3 linked regions of the Homo sapiens genome follow. The protein of the gene in region 3 interacts with the protein of the main gene of each other region in a pairwise test. Each region holds a gene or a part of one and is shown on either strand. Other genes may lie near its edges.

Region 1 (7,114 bases), about 72 Mb from region 3:
AGTTTTGTCTTATCCTTTCTGTTTCTATTTTTGTTTGCTCTGAGTTCCTCACTTAATTTTTGTTTTGTATTATATATATTTTAGTAGCTGCCTCAAATCCTTTTGAAATGAAGCAGAGTACCAATAAATAAGTAGAATAAAATCTGAAGAAAATCAAGTAATTGGCTCCAAACCACAAATCCACACAATGAAATCTCACTCGGAGAGCTTTTGCTATTCAGAATTCAATAAAATGTAGGTCTTCCTTGGACTCCCTTCAAGGGGCAAAGTTTCTAAGATAATTATAAGGTGATCTTACTTTTAATGTGATCCCACACATACATCGTTTAGAAACCTGTTAAGAAAATAGTAATATTGTCATTGTAGTGATTGATGGTATTTGAAAACTGCATTGTAAAATCTGGGACTGTTCACAGAAGCAGGTAAACCTGAGGACAAACATGTCTATGTACCTGAAAATACTTTTTCTATCTTAGTGATTTTTTTTTTAAAACTAAGGTTGCTAGGGAGGTGATTTATCAACTTTAGAAAAATAAAGGGAGCTAAGCTTAAAATATACTAATATACTATGTGGGAAAAATGGCTCCTGAAATGAGAGTGCTTAATAGAATCTGCATGAAGTCAACAGCAATGGTGTTAACCAAAGCATACATTTTCCATTCCCATCCTATAGAAATTGCATTCATCTGCCACCAGGCTATTGTTACTTTAATACTTAAACCTCACTAGTAAAAGGAAGCTCTTTCACCCACGTTAAGATTTTGCCATTTTGCACTCCTATTTCTCTATTCTCATGCTTAATGAATACAACCCCTCCTCATCTATCTAGATATGTATCAAGCTTAACAGATTCTATTTACACCAGGCAGATTTGTTGAGTCCTATAGCCAATTCAAAACTTTGTTTTCAAAAGATGACTGATAATTAGTTTATAATTAATTCCTAATGCTGTATTTCACAGAGTAGGCACTGTATCTTTATGGTTAACTCTAGGGAAGAGAAAACATAGCATTGTCAAGCATGATATTAAAATGACAAAATGACCTCAGGAAACCAGAGTTCTAAACAATGACTACAGAAGAATAAAAAATATCTAGAAAATTGCAGTTATTTTAGTTTAATGGTATACATTGGCTATGATTACGATATGTAATTTATTTAAAGCATATTTTTTAAAAACTAGTTTCAATTCATCTTTATATGTATGTTAAAACCCAGTGCATCAGCCTGGAGACTTGTCAAGTTTGTTGTTTTATCTGCATTTACCAGGCTCCAGTGCTGCTCATCCATGGACTGTAGCCCCCAAGGGCAAGTGCCATGCTTCTATTCATTCCTGTCACTTAGCATTGGGTCTATTCTCAACCAGTGTTAGTTGAATGAAAAAATGGACTTTTACCTCCTTGCCATAATCCTAAAGCATGCCAAGATGGCATGAGCCTCAGCCTTTCAGAAAGAACAGACTTGAGTGCTAGCGAATATGTTCTGGAAAACGTTTGGCATACTGATACATCCAGGAGAGAAAGGACAAGGAATTTCTTCTTTTGTCCCTCTTTCAGGAAATCCTCACAGAGATTTTATTAATAGCTTGATTAATTTTAATAGCTTGGTTAATTCTATGATAGCTTGATTCAAATTGTGCCTTCACATACATTTGTACGTATCTCAGTGCAGCCACAGGAATTCTTGTAACCCAAGAGTAGAATTTATATTGTAGCCCATGTGTGTTTTTTTCCTTTGCAAATTCTCTCATCTATTCTATTTCTGAGAAAATTCTTTTAATAGCCCCTTTTATGGCCCAAATTTACATCTTACCAGGTAGATATTTCTCTGGGCTTCAGTGAAACTACTCTGGGAAATAACAGGAAAAAAAAATACACCTCTGAAAGTGAGCTAGCCCCAAGGAATAAGGTTCAGAAGTGAAATGTGATCTCATGGAATGCAACTACCTAAGTCGCTATACTTCAGCCTATTTTGTTTTCAGAGTAGCACACACCAATCAAGTGGTTGCCTATCTCAAAAACTTTAGAATTTATAATTTTAGAAATATGAAAGAGAATTTGCAATGTGATCTCAGTGGCTGGCTCACTTCTCCTTGTAAAAATTTTTATCTGATTATAAAACAAACAACCTACTTTTTCAAGGCATATCAGTGCCATGAAATCATGCTCCACCTTTGCCCGCTTTCATCATATCACCAGGAGCTGCAGTCTGATATAAGAGAGGCCATGACAGAGAGTTAATTTCTGCCAATGCCCTTCTGGCTTTTACCGCAAGATATGGTTATTTAATTTTCTTCTGGGCATTTACATAGAGCTTTGATGGTGCTTCTTACCATATCACTGGGTCTGCCTGACTGCTTTATGGTGAATCTGAAACCATTGGGAAAATGGTCCAGAGTCCCTGAACTTTGCTGGATCCTAAAATTATAGTTTGGAAGCTGTGAGAATGTTGGTGAATAAAAAGAAGCATGTGTCTTTTCCATGAATTAATTTTGGGTGAGATTGCAGGATAAAATGATGCTTGCTCAGGAAGTGCCAATGCCCATCTACCCACCCTGACCTCGGGGAGCAGCACTCAGCCTGACATGCCAAGAACAGAGCTTTGTCCCCATGTCTCAGGTGACTGAAATTCTGCCTTCTGCCCAGAGCCCCTGCTTGGGCTTCAACCAGCAAAGCAAAGGCCTAGGAAACATTTGGTACCATCAGCTCTGGTGGTTGCACCTAAGATGGAATTTCATATAGCCTCTTGTTTATTTATTTATTTTATTTAACAAGGCGACCAGTTAGGGGACCCAGGTTAAGCCCTTCAACAGAACTATCCTGAAGAGCAAAAGTAGCAAATGACAGGCTATGACTAGGGATTGAATTTGGGGAAGGCTGGATTTGTGAAATGAGAGCCAAAAAAGTTTTCACCTTCTAGCCCACAGGTTAAGTTACTGAAAATCAGTCATCACCATTTCTACCCACTTGTGTGTTTCTCCTACTCTGGAGAGTAATCTAACTCATCATTTGCAATCAGGGCCTCTGAGTTCTGTTTGTGTTTGCTTTTGCTCTTCGCTTTGCTACTTGTCCGGCCGTTTGCCTTCGCATCTGACATCTGTTGGTAATAGAAGCCTTTGTCTTCAGTGGGCCCGCCCCAGTCCTCCTGGCTCTCGCCCTCTGTGGCGTAGGAGAAACCCTCCTCCACTGAGAAGGGGTCATCCACGTCGTAGCGTTGGTACGTGCTTTGGTGCAGGGCCTCTTCTCGAGCGCTGATTTCCAGGGTGCTGTTCCAGATGCCATATCCAAAATAAATGAGCAGACCTGTGGGGCGAGGGGAAAGGTACAGGTGAATAAGCAATTGCTTTGGGATCCTGGGACTAGCAGAGAGATCACCTTCAGTGATGAAATCAAAGCTGGCGGGGTGGGGGGCGGTGGGGGCGGGGATGTATTTTCTTTGCTTTATGTGGTGTTTTGAAAATACTTGAATTAGATGCCTTTTAAAAATTGGGAGATCTTGCGTTAAGTAACCCATATTTACAGATTTTCCTAGAAAAGTCAAAAGGTCTGACAACACTGCATCCACATTTCTACATGGTGATTTTTGGCTGGTGTTGAGAACTGGCTGCCTCTTTAGACAGGATACAGGGTCTCTAGGTTACCTCAGTCCCCACCTCCCATGCTGACGTCGGGCTCATTACACTCATATAGCTGCCAGCCAGGAATTTGCATTTTCTACCCTGGGTGAACTATTTATGGATCAGCAACAGTTTATTCCCAACGTTCTTATAAGATTTGATTATTCTCTGCCTCCAGTTAGGGACTCTATCTCATGTTTCACCTCTTAGCAGCATGCATATATTATCCTGTGATTTACCTTGACATTTTACACTCACTAAAGGCGTGATATATCATGGCCACTCCAAGCTGCCTGCTTTCTTCTGTGTGCTCTCAGAGTGTCTAGTGCATGCTACTATTATGTCCCTTAGAACATCTGTTGTGTGATTATCTGCACAGGGTCGTAGACTCTGCAGAAAATTGGCACTTAATGTTTGTTGAATGAATGGGTGAGAACTCCTGATAAGCGTGAAATGTCCAGTGCAACCTCTGTGTTGATGTCATCCCAATCAAAGGAAAGAAACTTGCCCCCCTCGTTAATATGTAGCATTCATATATGCTAATGTTTCATTTCTATGATTTAAAAAACATGCATAAAAGTCATTTATGAGTACCCATTTTCTTTTTCTTTTCTTTTTTTTTTTGAGACAGGGTCTCACTCTGTTGTCCAGGCTGGAGTGCAGTGGCATGATCTCGGCTCACTGCAGTCTCTGCCTCATGGGCTCAAGCGATTCTCCTGCCTTGGCCTCTCGAGTAGTTGGGACCACAGGCATGTGCCACCACGCCCAGCTAATTTTTGTATTTTTGAGAGATGGAGTTTCACCATGTTGCCCAGGCTGGTCTCAAATTCTTGGACTCAAGTGATCCGCCTGCTTCCACTTCCCAATGTGTTGGGATTACAGGCATGAGCCATCAGTCCTGGCCTGAGTCCCCATTTTCTATCTTGAATAGACTGTGAAGGTTCAGGGCCTGGAAGTCTGGGAACCATAACCTTGGAGTCCATAGAACATGATAAGTAAGACTGTGGGCTCTGTGTTCAAATCCTGCCTTCATCACTGTTAGCTGTGTAACCCTGGTCCCATTACTTAGCCTCTCTGTTCCTCAGCATTCTCTGTAAAACGATGAGAGCTATAGCAACCCTCTTAACATGGGAGTGCTTGAGGATGAAATGAGGTAAGTGGTGGTTCTCAACCCTGGCTGCACTTGAAAGTCACCTGGGGGTGTTTTTTGAACCACTCTGATACCCTAGCCCCATCCTGGAGATTCTGATTTAATTAGTCTGCAGTATAACCCAAGCATAGGTATGTTTTTAAAACTCCACAGGTGATTCCAATGGTCAGAGTGTCCCTGAGATAATGAACTGTGCCTGATGGGCACAGTGTTCCACTGCCCACTCAGCCCACACTATGGCCTAGGCACTGGGGTCCATACAGTATGCAACCTCCTTCCCGGGCCCTAACATCCTCCTCTGAGTAGCACCAGTCTCTTTGACTTTGCTAACCCTGCAGGCTTCTGCTGGGCTGGTTTGCTTAGAACCGCAAGTCAAGCCTGCTTTGCTGCTGTGGTGCTTGAGAAATCTTGCTCTCTTTTGAATTTGAAGTGTGCCTTTTTAAGCTTGGATTTCTCCCTCCTTGTCTCAAATGACTTTGTCCCCCCTCCCTCCCACACTCCCCAGTGAAATCAACTTTCCAGGAGCCAAAGTAAGCACAGATTTATAGTCCTAATTGGTAATAAATCCTAGAGTTAATTATTTGCAGATGTAGCTATTAGTGCTCAAATAATGATTCATCTTTTAAAAGCAGGGTATTTACTCTTTCTTTTCTGTAGGTGGGGGGTGGCTATGGGGGATGGTTATTATCCTTGTGTAGAACAGGGCATCACATTAAGGCCTCTTCTAAGAGTGCCAGTGTGCTGGTTCTTGGAGAATGCCTCTGTCTGAAGCATGTTTGGCATCTGAGAATGGATTTCAGGCGACCAGGCAGGACCTGTGCACACCTCCTTTTGCACTGCTTTGCTTTTTTGCCATCTTTTCTTCTAGACACCCAGGCAGATGCCAAATATTGCCTCCTACTCCTGCTTGGTACCTATTATGCCAATTCTTTCCTTTCTGATGCCCTTCTCTGACTTTGCTTATAGACGACTCATTTCCCTACTGAACTTAATACCATCTTTTTCTTTTCCCTTTGCCCCAAACGTCTCTCCTCTGCCACCACAAAGGTCATTGTTCAGTCACTGGTTTGACATCACTCATCACTGGTTTGTCGATTCCAACAGACCTGTCCCTGCCCCCACAAGGTATTTTGGGTGTCAGATAGATTCATATTATGGGAATTCTCTAAAAACCTTGAGTCATAGATATTTAGAGCTGGAAAAGATGCTATAGATCACCTATGCATTCTAAAACCTTCATTTTACAGAAGAAGAAACAGAGGCTGGGAAAGAATAAGTGACTTGCCTGGGTCTGAGAAGGAGAGGAACCAGCTTTATACATGGAGGGAGAGAAGTCTCTTGCGTGTCTAGTCCTTCACACCTCCTCTCCCCTCCCCCAGGCTGGTTTACAGACTATGCCCACTGCAGTAAACATGTGATAAGAGGTTTACATGTGTTCTTTGGGAGTGGCCAGGCCTGGAAGGAACATGTGTGTGTGTGTGTGTGTGTGTGTGTGTGTATGTGTGTGTGTCTGTGTCTGCGCGCTCTCACATATTGACTGTGGTTACTTTTTACTTTGTGAAGACAATCCATGGAAACTTGCCACATAAATATTTATGGGTCTTTTCATGTTTGCCCTGAACCCCCTGGAGTTTCAAAGGTGTATCACTCTGTCTTCAAAAATGCATTTCAAATGTGAGTACTGTGAAACAAGAAACGACCGTGTGCATGCAGCCTGGTAGAGTAAATAGTAGATGCAAAGCCGTTCCCCTAGGGCTTGGCATTCTGTGTGTCTATCTTTCTTGCTGGCCCTTGAGTCAATTCAGGAAAAGTGGTGTGAAACTGAGAAGGATTGGAGAAAAGAAAAATGGAGGGGGACAAAGAAACAGAGAGGAACAGATGAAGGGAGGGAGGGAGGGAGAGAGAGAGAAGAGAAGAGAAACGTATTACCATCTGTCCCACATAAACAAGGGCTTTGTGTCGGAGGAGTAAACAGAGCTGCTCCACGCCTCCTGTGTGGAAGCAGGGTGTTTTGTTTCTGCTCCTTTTTTTAGTTGGCTTAGAGAATGAAGCATGAGGTAGTTTCTGAAAAATCTGTAGGGGTTCTGGGAATCCTGAATCATCTAAACTAAACTTCACAAAGCATTTCTGTGTGCTGGGTTAGGATAATGATGGATGGTTGATGTTGCACCTTTGTCCCAAAGAGCTCAAAATGTTACACAAACAGTATCTTGTTTTGTTTAGACTCCCTTTAACCTGTCTGGGAAGGGGTGTGTGTGTGTGTGTGTGTGTGTGTGTGTGAGTGATTATGTGCATTGCACACTTCACAGACAGGACAACAGGACAGTGGGCACAGAAAACATAAGGGA
Region 2 (7,114 bases), on a different chromosome or scaffold from region 3:
TTCATTTTTGTGGGTCGTGCCTTGGGATATTTGAGTGGCTCTGTGATTGGTGGATTTCTTGTCGATGTCATGAATTATTTTTTACTTTTGGGTAAGTAAATGCTAATTTTAGCTTCTTTATGACTGTCAAGTGAATTTACAAGTTGTCTTTGAAAATATGAAAATACTAGCATGCAGAATGGTTGGCCACTGAAATGGGTAGTGTTTAGGTGTCCTCAATGGCAGTTGAGTTTCCCTGGTACCTGCTTTCATCTTGACAGTTAGAGGGTATCTGTGCTGGGTCCCTCTGGAAATTTAGATTAGCTCTAGAGTGTCTTAGCAATCCTTAGCCTTTCCAACCACTATAATTTAGCTACCACTCCTGGATCACACACTGGTTGTCCAAAAAACTCTGCTTAGAGGGTTTAGGGCAGATTTCCTGGGGTCACCACAGATCAGAATGAGCTCTTTGAACCTGCCCAGGCTACACCCTGGATTGGGAATGAAGAGGGGAAGCGAGGTTGGGTGGACTGATGTAGGCTATGTTTTTGTTCCTGCTGCCCCATGTTGTCGTTGGACAACCCCAGAGTGCTCTGTCTCACCCTGGAAATAGATGGCAAAGCTGCTTTTTTTTTTTGAGACAGGGTCTCCTCTCCCTCTATTGCCCAGGCTGGAGTGCAGTGATGCGATCTCTGCTCACTGCAACCTCCCCCTCCTGGGCTCAAGCGATCCTCCCATCTCAGCCTTCCAATTAACTGGGACCACAGGTGTGAGCCACCATGCCTGATTAATTTTTGTGTTTTTAGTAGAGCCGGGGTTTCACCATGTTGCCCAGGTTGGTCTGGAACTCCTGAGCTCAAAGGATCAGCCTCCCAGAGTATTGGGATTACAGGTGTGAGCCACCACGCCTGGGCTGGCAAAGCTTTTAGCATATACTTTTTTTGAATAAATTGAAATATTTAGAGAAAATTTAGATTAATATGATAAAATTGTTTTGGAAGCAAGAATAATTTGTTATTGTTAAGGAATTAATAAATAATCCCTCTTATTTCCAAAGTGGGTTGAAATAACATATTTCTTGTATTTTCCTCCCTATTTCCCAAACTAATTTATTTAGTAAATTTTATTACAAACTACTCTAGTAATTGCATTTTATTTTTGTCTATTTAATTTTTTGCCTCATGTCTAAAAATTCCTGTTAGGTTCTTAAATGTGAATCATTTAAATTAGTTTTGGCTTGTCTCTTTTGGTATAAAACTTTGCCTTATGGTATAATTTACAGTTTGATTACTAGCAGTGCTTTAAATGTATTTGTGTTATAATTATTTATATTTCATAATCCATAAAGATTATAAAAGATTCAAATGAAATAATCACTTTTAGAAGCAAAAACTCTCATCTACTCATTATCTAATTTAAATTTGACCTGATTTTGCATGTTTGGACATTTATGATATTGACTTGATCCATGACTGCATGGATATTATTTTTTATAGCTGAGTTTCTACCTTCCCAGGAATCTCAATGTCGGCTACCACCGTTGGTCTTTATCTTGTTCCTTTTTGCAAGACAGCAATATTACTCACTGTCATGATGTCTATCTTCGGTGTTTCAATTGGCATTCTGGATACAGGTTAGTGAGCTCTTCAACGTCATCTCTGGGAGTAGGGACTTGCTAGAAGAAGTACAGCAGATGATACTAAACTGTCACTTGCAATGCCCCCTAAAATGACACAGACCTACTGAGTTGGTTGTGAGTCACTCAGAATGAATCACCCTTCTAGCAGCTATTCTTGCCAATTAGGGGGCCTGTTTCTGAGCAGCCAACTCTGAAATGAACTTAAAGAATTTTGTTCTATGAGAGATAATTGATTTACATTGTCCAAACAGGGAAGGGCCCCTGTGTGGGTAATTACAGTGCAGGTGAATAGGCCTTCATCTTGGGGTAGAACTTTATTGCTCTAGTATGGGAGGAATTGGTGGTTTAATAGGTTAAACCAAGTTTGGAACTGTTATTTGGCTGAGAAAGCATAGAAGCAGCAATCCAACTTGACATTTACCCTGACTTCCAAGCCAAGAGAGATCCATAGTGTGGACTAGGCTCTTTCTTTTTCTTTCTGTCCTCAAAGTTCCTGGCCTCCTGCAGTAGATTCTTTCCCGTATCATCATCATGTCTTTTAAAACTTACTAAATAGGCCGGGTGCGGTGGCTCACACCTGTAATCCAGCACTTTGGGAGGCCGAGATGGGTGGATCACGAGGTCAGGAGATCGAGACCATCCTGGCTAACACAATGAAACCTCATCTCTACTAAAAATACAAAAAATTAGCCGGGTGTGGTGGTGGGCGCCTGTAGTCCCAATTACTCGGGAGGCTGAGGCAGGAGAATGGCATGAACCCAGGAGGCGGAGCTTGCAGTGAGCAGAGATCACACCACTGCACTTCAGCCTGGGTGACAGAGTGAGACTCCATCTCAAAAAAAAAAAAAAAACCTACTAAATAACGGCGGGGTGGCTTACGCCTATAATCCTAGCACTTTGGGAGGCTGTGTCGGGCAGATCACCTGAGGTCAGGAGTTCAAGACCAGCCTGACCAATATGGAGAAACCGCGTCTCTACTAAAAATATAAAATGAGCCAGGCATGGTGGCGCGTGCCTGTAATCCCAGCTACTCAGGAGGCTGAGGCTGGAGAATTGCTTGAACCCAGGAGGTGGAGGTTGCAGAGAGCCACGATTGTGCCATTGCACTCCAGCCAGGGTCTCAAAAACAAACAAACAGAAAACCTACTAAATAACATAGATGACATCTGTTTACTCCTAAAACCAGCTTTCTACCCCTCCCTTCCCTGCTTTGCTGTTACGTGATCTGTTGAGGAAATATTTTATTTTACTTTAGGGTTAATTTTGTTATGAAATTATAGGGTAGAATTATATATTTATCTGAAAATATCTGTTGAAAAAAAAGAAGATAGCTCAAGATGTGCTGCTTCTTGCCTTTCTCCTCCTAGACGTTTAGACAGTATAAATTCAGATGCTAAACGGTGTCCTTGTTTCCTCTAATGGGCATACCAGAATCCTGGCTATTCAGGTTCCTGGACGTGTGTTTTGCATCTGTTACATACATAAGTAAGTAATTTTCCTCAAGTGGCTACCAACAGCAAGTACAGAAAGCTTTGGTAATTTGGCTACTATCTGATGATAAAATTTTGCCTTTTAAATATATATTTAAAATATTAATATATAAATATTTCTTCTGCAGTCTGATGTTAGAACTGTATTATAAAAAGCGTCTTGCTAATGTGCTTGGTTCTAGGAGGTAGTAGTCTACTAGACTGTAGAATTCGATTTGTGAGTATGTGATGTTATAATGCTTAGAGTTGTCTGGTGGTAGTGGGTTAGAATTCCTTTCTCAGAATTGATTTAGTTGCAATGTTTGATAATTAGAATATTATAATGCTTGTGCTATGTAAAATAGACTCACCCCCTTTCTGATAAGTGAACTTTTTTTTTTAATAAGTAAGTAACTGTTTAACTTAAATAATTTTTCCCATCTTTCATCGACAGGTGGTAACGTCCTTATCTTGGCTATTTGGGGGGACAAAGGAGCCCCACATATGCAGGCCTTACACTTCTCTTTTGCCTTGGGTGCCTTTTTGGCTCCACTGCTAGCTAAACTGGCTTTGGGTCCGACAGCGTCTGCTGAAAACCACACAGAGTCTGACTTCCATCCTGCACTCAACCAATCATCTGATGCTGACTCAGAAGCTCTGTTTGGAGTACCTAATGATAAGAATTTACTGTGGGCTTATGCTGTTATCGGTACTTACATGTTCTTAGTTTCTGTCATTTTTTTTTGTCTGTTTTTAAAGAATAGCTCAAAGCAAGAAAAAGCAAGAGCATCTGCTGAGACATTTCGAAGAGCAAAATATCACAACGCCCTTCTTTGTCTCCTTTTTCTGTTCTTCTTTTTTTATGTTGGAGCTGAGGTAACATATGGCTCTTATGTTTTCTCATTTGCAACCACCCATGCTGGCATGAAAGAAAGTGAAGCTGCTGGGTTGAACTCCATCTTCTGGGGGACATTTGCAGCCTGCAGGGGCCTGGCAATCTTTTTTGCTACCTGTTTACAGCCTGGAACCATGATTGTGTTGAGCAACATTGGCAGCCTGACTTCATCTTTATTTCTGGTGCTTTTTGACAAGAACCCAATTTGTCTCTGGATAGCAACTTCAGTGTATGGGGCTTCAATGGCAACCACATTTCCGAGTGGTGTTTCTTGGATTGAGCAGTACACGACCATCCATGGGAAATCTGCAGCATTTTTTGTAATTGGTGCTTCCCTGGGAGAAATGGCTATTCCTGCAGTCATTGGAATTCTTCAAGGAAAATACCCTGATTTGCCTGTAGTTCTGTATACCTCTTTGGGAGCATCAATAGCTACTGGTATTTTATTTCCTGTGCTATATAAATTAGCCACTTCACCTCTTGATCGCCAGCGAAAAGAAGACAGAAAGAGTGAGGACCAGAAAGCTCTGCTCTCTAGCTCCGGGCTAAATGAATATGAGGAAGAGAATGAAGAGGAGGATGCAGAAAAATGGAATGAAATGGATTTTGAAATGATTGAAACGAATGATACAATGAGGCATTCTATAATAGAGACATCTAGAAGTAGTCTGACGGAGCCCACAGCTGAAGTCTATAATCAATACCCATCAAATGCACTGGTGTTTGAGTCTTCTCCTTTTAATACTGGCAGTGCCCATGTGAAGCACTTGCCAGAAACCAGGACAAAAGGGACTAACGTTTAGAGAAGATGGATTACTCACTGACATCTTTGAATAACTGCCACTTCTAAGGACGCCATTCAGAGCAGAGCATTAGCAGAATTTCACCATGCTTTGGGGATTAAAATTTTTAGGTCCATATTATAGCAAATGCTAAAAATTTTTGAAATGTTCTGTAATTCCCAGAGTCTTCCATAAATAACCAAATGGTCTCATACACGTACAATAGGATCTTGTTATAACGCTATCATTTGACATGTGACTGATTAGGAAATATTTTATGGTCTCCACCCCTCAGAGCACCCAAAGAAGGCATTGTTTTTGAGAAGGGGGGTATTCTCAGAATGAGACCATGTAGGAGTTGAATTGATTGGTTGAACAAATTATCAGGTATCAATATTTTTCCAGGAAAGTTGAGGAGAATAGTTTCATAAAAGAGAAATGGGCCGGGTGCAGTGGCTAAAGCCTGTAATCCCAGCACTTTGGGAGGCCGAGACGGGCAGATCACGAGGTCAGGAGATCGAGACCATCCTGGCTAACACAGTGAAACCCTGTCTCTACTAAAAATACAAAAAATTAGCCAGGCGTGGTGGCAGGCACCTGTAGTCCCAGCTACTTGGGAGGCTGAGGCAGGAGAATGGCGTGAACCCGGGAGGTGGAGCTTGCAGTGAGCCGAGATCATGCCACACCGTACTCCAGCCTGGGCGACATCTAGACTCCGTCTCAAAAAAGAAATGGAGAGGTATTTTTATTAATTGCTTTACCTTATCTGTAGGGTTGGATCAAAGAATGTAATGACTCATTTGATTTCTAATTTCAATGAAGAGAACACAGAACAGGGCCCAAGGGGTCGGGCTTCAAGCCTTGACTTCTTCTAGCCCTGCACTCTGTCACTTAACGTAGGCCTTGTTTATCTCGCCTCCTGATCTGTGATTCTAGAAATGAAAATGAGATGATTTCCAAATTGGGAATCTGTAAGTTTTAAAGTTTGTGCAAAATGTCTGCTAGAAATTAGTACAAGTGACAGCATGTTCTTCATTTCAAATGAGAAGTGAAACCAAAATGATAAATAGCTTTAAGAATGTGCTAATGATAAATGATTACATGTCAATTTAATGTACTTAATGTTTAATACCTTATTTGAATAATTACCTGAAGAATATATTTTTTAGTACTGCATTTCATTGATTCTAAGTTGCACTTTTTACCCCCATACTGTTAACATATCTGAAATCAGAATGTGTCTTACAATCAGTGATCGTTTAACATTGTGACAAAGTTTAATGGACAGTTTTTTCCCATATGTATATATAAAATAATGTGTTTTACAATCAGTGGCTTAGATTCAGTGAAATACAGTAATTCATTCAATTATGATAGTATCTTTACAGACATTTTAAAAATAAGTTATTTTTATATGCTAATATTCTATGTTCAAGTGGAATTTGGAGACACTATGTTCTAATTTTAAGAACTGTTTCAGTGTTATTAGATTAGTAGTAGGGCTGTAGATGGGGTCTTTCGAGGTCCTTTGCCTACCTCAGTAACAGAGGCTGGGTCTGAGCCTTGCTCGAGATTAGCTCTTCACCAGGTCTGTGTGGTAATCATATCGTAGTTACCGTAGGTCACGCTGCAAGTGTAATTTACAGTGAGGCATAGTCTTTTCCAGTGATTGGAATACTTGTGTCACCGATCCAGGGTTTCTCTTTCCTGAGTCTGAAATACCTGGGAAACCAGTTAGAAGGTGACTGGGTAGCCTAGGAGTCAAGGATCAGAAAGGGTACTTCATATATATGTGGCAGAATTGGTGCAGGTGATCCTTTGAAAAATGACAAGAATTGATGAAATTTTGTTTACTTCCTCCAATTTTTTGCTGAATAACATCTCCTTTCTACCTGATTGGAGTAGGCTTGCTTTCTCTTACTTAATTTCTATAAATTTGCCATTGTTTTGTCTCAAGTAAAATACAGTGTCTTTCTTGACCACTGCCCGCCCATTCACCTTATATGCCTGCCACAGTCTTGGTTCATGTAATAACCTAACAGCTTTGGAGATGGCGGTGGAGAAGTTAATGGTAAAAACCTTCTTGCTCTTTTTATTTTTATTTATTTATTAGGGGTGGGGGATGGTGTCTCACTCTGTCACTCAGGCTGGAGTGCAATGACGTGATCTCAGCTCACTGCAACCTCTGCCTCCCTGGTTCAAGCGATTCTTCTGCCTCGGCCTCCTGAGTAGCTGGGATTACAGGCATGCGCCACCATGCCCAGCTAATTTTTGTGTTTTTAGTAGAGAGGGGGTTTCATCATGTTACCTAGGCTGATCTCAAACTCCTGATCTCAAGTGATCTGCCCAC
Region 3 (7,114 bases):
AAGTGCTGGGATTACAGGCGTGACCCACCGTGCCCAGCCAGTGTCTGCATATTTTGAAGAGTACAGGTGGTGTTGTACTACTTTAGCTTATTGTTCTTCAAAAATGTAGTCATTTGGAAGAGTAATGTGTTTCTTCTGTCTTTTCTAAGTGTTAAAAAAAAGTCTACATAAGAGTCTAGAAGTTTGTTGCCAAATCCTTATTTATTTTACAGATTGAAAGGCTTAACTACTGTGTTCCTTATAGCACATGGGGATTCAAGATAATTGAAATACTTTAAATATAAATTTAAGTTTGACATAAAGTGTTACATCATAAGCATTATTGTGAATCTTCCTTTCATTCTAAGAGAATATTTTGAAGATGTATTTTCATGGTAACTATAGTGTTCTACTGTTTTATAAAACGTAGGGTAGGCATCAAAAGCAAGAGAAATTGAAACATTAAATAGAAATGCAGTGTTAGCAATCTGTTTTTATAAATCTTGTCTCTTAGATCTGCTCAGTCTTTCAGACAACACTAAGCCTAATTGAAACCAGCTTTTCTTCAGAGGTCCTAGGCCAATTTTCATTCAGAAGACACAAGCATCATCCATATCCAGATTGGTATACAACAGGATTCAGCAGATTTGTTCTGTAAAGATCCAGCTAATAAATATTTTAGGCTTTACAGGCCACATGTCGCTGCAGCTTATTCTTTTTTTGTTTTATTTATAGCTCTTTATTCTTAACTCACGGCCCATACAAAACAGGCCATGCATGGGCAGTCATTTGCCCATCCCTGGTATAGATTCAACTACCTTCCCTTCTTTTTTTTTTTTTTTTTCTAGATTATTTTATGCAGACCCTTTCATTCCTTTACCATGTTATACCTTTAGAAAGATTTAGTGTTTGTGAATTCTCTCTTTCATACTTTAAAAAAGAAAACAGGGATAAATTGCATCCTCTTGTAATGGTTTGTATGTTGGACTAAAGGCAGGAGTGTACACTGAAACTTCTTCCATGAGATGTTGATTTCTCCTAAAAAAAAAAAAAAAAAGAAAAAGAAATCTATTAGTACCCAACTTTTCTCATGTTTATCCGAAAAAACTTGAGCCTCATTCTCTGAGAATTAGACCTTTTAGTGTATTTTCATCGAAAGCATTTGCCACAGAAAAGTGTTAAGAATCCATTTATTTCATGAAATAAAGTAGTGAGAGATTGACAGTAAACAATGAGTAAATACATATGAAAAAGAAGTACATATTAAAGATTACATAGAGAACTTTTGCACAATCACATATGAAACTGGGTGCTAGATACTTGTAGAGAAAGCTGTTTATGCTGATTTCAGAAGTTGTCCTGCTTAGAAATGAGACTTTTTTCCTAGGAACAATATTAGTTGTCTAATTTTTAGCCACACAGTCTTCTTGGTTCTTTTATTGGGTGGGGGGAACCAAATCAAAAGAAAATGTTTCACTAAATATGGGGCATCATGTGTTATGTGAGTATCACCAAAAAAAACCCTTCTCTCTTTCAGGGGACACTTATCTACAAGTCTTTTTACATTTAAGACAAGTGGTAAGCCTTTTATGGACTTTATAATTTTTTATTTATATAATATTTTTTGAACACTGTTAGGCACTGTGTCAGTTGCTGATTTATTGTACTTTCTCACGTAGTTGTCTTAATAACACTATGAGGTAAGATAGTTATCTAATAATATAATGAATAGAGCAAATTGAAAGTTTTATATTTATAGAGAAATGGTCATGTAAGCAAGGAAGGTTCCTTAAGAAAGATGACTTTTGAACTTGTCTGAAGAAGTAATCAATTCGTTCAACAGAAAATACTTACTGAGTGCCTTCTCTTTATGTGCCAGGCATTGCTCTGGTTCGAGTGATAGAGTAAAGTGAACAAACTCCTGCCTTCCTGGAGCTTACATTCTAGTAGTGAGAGATTGATGATAAGCAATGAATAAATTTCTGTTTATAATGTACTGTTTACAATATGATAAAAGATGTAGGAAAATAAGGAGGACTGGATTGAAGTTGGGAAGGGCCTTCCTCCCAGGGAAGACCTCAGGGAGAATGCAACATAGGCCAAAAACCTGAAGGAGGTAAAGGAGTGAGTTACTCAGTTATTTGGGAAGAGTGTCCCAGGGAGAAGATAATGTATCTCCATTAAACTAACAGTCATGCTTATAAATGAGCATGTTTGTAGGTTTCCTAATGATACACAAAGACATATGCCCAAGAAACACTTGCCTAGTTTTGAAATTTCTCTGTTACAGTGTATTATTAGTGTAGTGTATGTTAATTAAAGATGGAATAGAAAGTTTTCAGTGAGCAGGTCTACATGCATTTTGAAATTATACCTGGAAACCAAATTTAGTCTTTTCTTTGTTTCAGGATGTTATGGAACACTGGGGATGGAGTCTGGTGTGATCGCGGATCCTCAAATAACAGCATCATCTGTGCTGGAGTGGACTGACCACACAGGGCAAGAGAACAGTTGGAAACCCAAAAAAGCCAGGCTGAAAAAACCTGGACCGCCTTGGGCTGCTTTTGCCACTGATGAATACCAGTGGTTACAAATAGATTTGAATAAGGAAAAGAAAATAACAGGTTAAGAGACAAAAATTTTCTAAAGCAATTTGTAACACTTATTTTATTTGAAAAACTAGTAACATCTAAGATTTTCAGAGAAAATTAAGGCATTAAAATTGTAATTATATGGTTTTATATTTTCTTCACTGATGTTAATATTACTAGAGACACATTTTATGAAACATGGCAGAGAAAAGGAGTTATTTGTGTTGGTCAGGGTTCTCTAAAAGGACACAACTGATAGGACAGATGTATATATAAAGGGGAGTTTATTAAGGTGTATCGACTCACATGATCACAAAGTGAAGTCCCACAGTAGGCCATCTGCAAGCTGAGGAGCAAGGAAGCCATTCCGAGTCCCAAAACCTCAAAAGTAGGGAAGCCAACAGTGCAGCTTTTAGTCTATGGTCAAAGGTCCAGAAGTCCCAAAGCTAAGAACTTGGAGTCTGATGTTCAAGGGCAGGAAGCATCCAGCATGGGAGAAAGATGTAGGCTGGGAGACTTAAGCCAGTTTAGTCTTTTCACATTTTCTTCTGCCTGTTTTTATTCTGGCCGTGCTGATGCAGATTAAATGGTGCCGACCCAGATTGAGGGTGGGTCTGCGTGTCCTAGTCCACTGACTCAAATGTTAATCTCCTCTAGCAACACCCTCACAGACACACCTGGGAACAATACTTTTCATCCTTCAATCAAGTTGACACTCAGTATTAACCATCACAGTATTTAATTCGTAATAGCTTTTTGTTTCCATTGTAATGAGACTCTTTTTTTAAGGTAGTGTTTCAGTAAAGTGGTCTTGAGACATCTAAAATAACGGTCTCCTACAGTCATTAAGAGAAATTTATGTTAAAGGAGTCCATTTTAAATGATGAGATCATTAATTTTCCACATGTGGAGAGTATAAATTTAATTTAGGGGAACTTAGCAAATGGTCGGAATAATTGGTTGGGATTGGTTTAATTTTGTTAAAATATTTATTTTGTTTTGGTACTGTAAATAATACCAATAATCATCTTTAATCTGTTCATTCCCAGGAAGTCATCTTACCCAGTAGTCAAAATCTATTTTACGACGTTATAAACACAAGACACCAAAACAGAATAGTTCTTTACTTAATTAATGCCCACCCATAATCCTTCCTCTCTCTCCAAGGGAATAAGGCCAAGGATTTAGTAATTGTTATGACAAAAACGTGCACTTGGATATGGAAATGAGCCATAATTAGAAATGTTCGAGCTGTGCATTTCAAGTGTTTATACTTTGATGCTGAACAAACTTAGGGAATCAGACCATGTGCATTAATGAAAGCAACTCTTCATTCCCCAGGCATTATAACCACTGGATCCACCATGGTGGAGCACAATTACTATGTGTCTGCCTACAGAATCCTGTACAGTGATGATGGGCAGAAATGGACTGTGTACAGAGAGCCTGGTGTGGAGCAAGATAAGGTAAAATGATTACCAAGGTATTTTTAAAAAACATTTTTTAAATGGGTGGTTGCCAAGTCACAGAGCTCTCCTGTATAAAAGAGATGTAGAAGTTTAGAATGTCTTATACTACCCTCTTGTGGTTATTTTAGGTAGTGTTATTGGCCTTACTCTACTGACTTTAGAAAATTCTCAGTAGTTCTAGGTTCCTTTTGGTGATTGTAACGGTGAGTACTTTTCTGATTTTTGTCATTGCATTTTTAATTGAATTGTTTAGACACTTTATTAAGAAAGTCTAAAAGGGACCTTGTAATTTCTTATTTTTATGAAGCTTTTTTCAATTCACCAGATGATGGAGAGCCTTTGTTCCCAGATTTCTACTCTGTAGGCAAGAGGTAAAAAAAGAAAAAAGCTGAAAACCAACGTGCATTAAATTATAGGATATTAGAGATGAAAATTCATCTGAAGATCATCTCACCAACTTTCATCTTGGGAAACTTCTGTTTTTTCTTACATGAAGAATTGCTCTAGCATCTAATTATGGAATCTTTGTTTTAGTTAGCAACAATTTATGAAGATGCTGGAATGAGCCAGAGGAAATGATAAGGGGTGGGGAGCAGGCAGAGATGGGTCTTATTCAGATGTGTATCCCTTTGATCTTTAAATGGAGAAGTCCTTGTGCCTAAGGAAGATAGATGTCTCCCATCAGTACCAAAACTATGGGGCTGGGCATGATGGCTCACTCCTGTAATCACAGCACTTTGGGATTGCTTGAGCTCAGGAGTTTGAAACCAGCCTGGGCAACATGGCAACACGCCATCTCCACTAAAAATACAGAAAATTAGCCAGGCATGGTGGCGCATGCCTGTAGTCCCAGTTTCTTGGGAGGCTGAGGTGGGAGAATCACCTGAACCCAGGAGGTTGAGGCTGCAGTGAGCTGTGATCACTCCACTGCAATCCAGCCTGGGCGACAGAGGGAGACTCTGTCTCAAAGTGGAAAAAAAAGAACTGAAACAATGATGACATTTTTTCAAACTTTCCTATGAGTTTGATTTTGATTATATATTTTTGTTTTTTATCATGTATGATTTGCTAAAAAGTCTTCAATTACTACTTTTCTCATCTCTTTGTTCAAAAACCTCCAGGGGCTCATTATCTTTCATATGCATCTTAACTCCTCTGCTTTTATTCAAGGCCTCTTTCTTCTCTTCTACTTGGCGTCACATGAACTTCATCTTTGGTGAGCCTCTCCCTGTTAAAGAAAATAACAATACTGTCTCCATACATATCTTCTACCTCATGCCCCTAAACTTGACTACTCTTTACTCCTGCCACATCCATATTCATTTGTATCACATTTATTTTGCTTGTGGAATATAGCTAAATTTTTGGAATGTTAAGAATTGTTCAGGCTTATACTATAAAAACTTCTAAACATTAAATGATATTTCTGAAAAAGATTCTATGTTGCATTCATTTTTGAAAGGTAATTTCTCTAAGTGTAGAAATCTGGGTTGATCAGTGGTTTTTTGGTTTTTTTTTTTTTTTGGTTTTTCCTTTCAATAATTGAAATACGTTGTCTGCTGTTTGCTGGCTTGCATTGTTTTTGACAAGAATTCTGCTATTATTTCTGTTCCTCAATATGTGATATGTCTTTTTTTCTGTGGCTCCTTTTAAGGTTTTCTTTTTATCATTTGTTTTAAGCAGTTTGATTGATGTGGCTTTTTTATATTTTTCTTCTTTTTTTTTTGCGTGGGGTTCTTTGAGGTTTTTGGATCTGTAGGTTATGATTTGCATCAAATTTAGAAAATTGTAGTTCTTTTTTTTTCAAATATTTCCCTTCCCCAATTCTAATTTTATGAATATTATGACCCTTGAAGGTATCTTACCATTCACCAATGCTCCGTTCTTTATTTTTTTCAGTCTTTTTCTCTTTGTATTTTAGTTTGAAAGTTTTCTGTTTTGTCTTCAAGTTCACTAATCTATTCTTCTGAAATGTCTAATCTGTTAATCCCATCCAATGTATTTTTATCTCTGATACTGTATTTTTTATCTCTAGATGTTCAGTTTGGGAGTTTTAAGATGTCTCCAGTGTGTCTTTACATGCTCATGCTTTTCTCTATCTCTGGAACATGGAGCATATATAATAGCTCTTTTAATATCCTCATCTGCTAATGTTATCCTATGTCATATATGGGTCTTTTTATGTTGATTGATATTATGGATCATATTTTACCTGCCCGAATTTTTTTTATTGGATGCCAGACATTGTGTTACATTGTTTGGTGCTGGGGTTTTTTGTTATTAATATTCCCTTAAGTATTTTTGAGCTTTATTCTGGAATGTAGTTAAGCTACTGGAAACAATGTGATATTTTCAAGGCTTGCTTTTAAACTTCATTAGGCAGGACCTGGACAGCCTTCAGTTTTCTTATTTTTCTCCCCCACTGAGACAATACTGTTCTAAGTACTCACTGCAGCATCCCATGTATTATGAGGTTTCTCTGTTCTACCTCTTGGCAGTGTAAGGAATTCCCAGATCTACGGAGCTGTGAGACTTGTCCTGCTGACTCATTCCAGTGTTTCTTTTACTGGCCATAGGTCATTTCTTTACATGCAGCTGAAGATTTAAGGGATAACTCCTTATATATTCTAGAAGTGTCTCTCTCTCTCTCTCTCACTCACTCTATCTTTATAGCTCTCTTCTCTCCTAATCTCTGCCTACAAATTCTAGCTACCTTATTGGCCTCCCACTCTCAGCTCTGTCTCTGCAACTCAGTGAGACCGGCAGGCTCTGTTAGGGATCTCTCTCCCTGCACTGTGGCCTGGAAACTCTTCTATAGACAGTACTGGGGCAATAAATAGCAGGGTTCACCTTATTTGTTTCCCTTCTTTCCGTCATTATTGCCCAAGGCAGCCTGTTATCCAGTTTCTCAGGTACGTATAGGGCTGAACAATAAGTCTAATCCGTTACTCTTATGGTCAGAAATGCAAATCTTCACATTGAATTGTATGAATTAACAGTCTTTTCCCGCTCATGTAAGTCCATCTGCTCCCTCATCACCTCCAACCCAAGGGTAATTGGTGTATTCATTTTACC

The links.
Region 1: the proteins of DCBLD2 (region 3) and SLC7A14 interact in binary tests that used the Homo sapiens proteins (3 or more experiments, as listed by UniProt).
Region 2: the proteins of DCBLD2 (region 3) and SLC60A2 interact in binary tests that used the Homo sapiens proteins (3 or more experiments, as listed by UniProt).

The regions. Positions count from the first base shown.
Region 1 is NC_000003.12:170,464,076-170,471,189, forward strand, and holds part of SLC7A14 (solute carrier family 7 member 14), read right to left. Parts: intron 3,328-7,114; exon of another isoform or gene 3,303-3,327; coding exon 2,980-3,302; 3' UTR 1-2,979. UniProt on the Homo sapiens protein: Imports 4-aminobutanoate (GABA) into lysosomes. May act as a GABA sensor that regulates mTORC2-dependent INS signaling and gluconeogenesis. The transport mechanism and substrate selectivity remain to be elucidated.
Region 2 is NC_000006.12:111,262,335-111,269,448, forward strand, and holds part of SLC60A2 (sodium-dependent glucose transporter 1), read left to right. Parts: coding exon 1-91; intron 92-1,495; coding exon 1,496-1,612; intron 1,613-3,541; coding exon 3,542-4,785; 3' UTR 4,786-7,114. UniProt on the Homo sapiens protein: May function as a sodium-dependent glucose transporter. Potential channels for urea in the inner medulla of kidney.
Region 3 is NC_000003.12:98,814,691-98,821,804, reverse strand, and holds part of DCBLD2 (discoidin, CUB and LCCL domain-containing protein 2 precursor), read left to right. Parts: intron 1-1,516; coding exon 1,517-1,557; intron 1,558-2,387; coding exon 2,388-2,603; intron 2,604-3,911; coding exon 3,912-4,036; intron 4,037-7,114.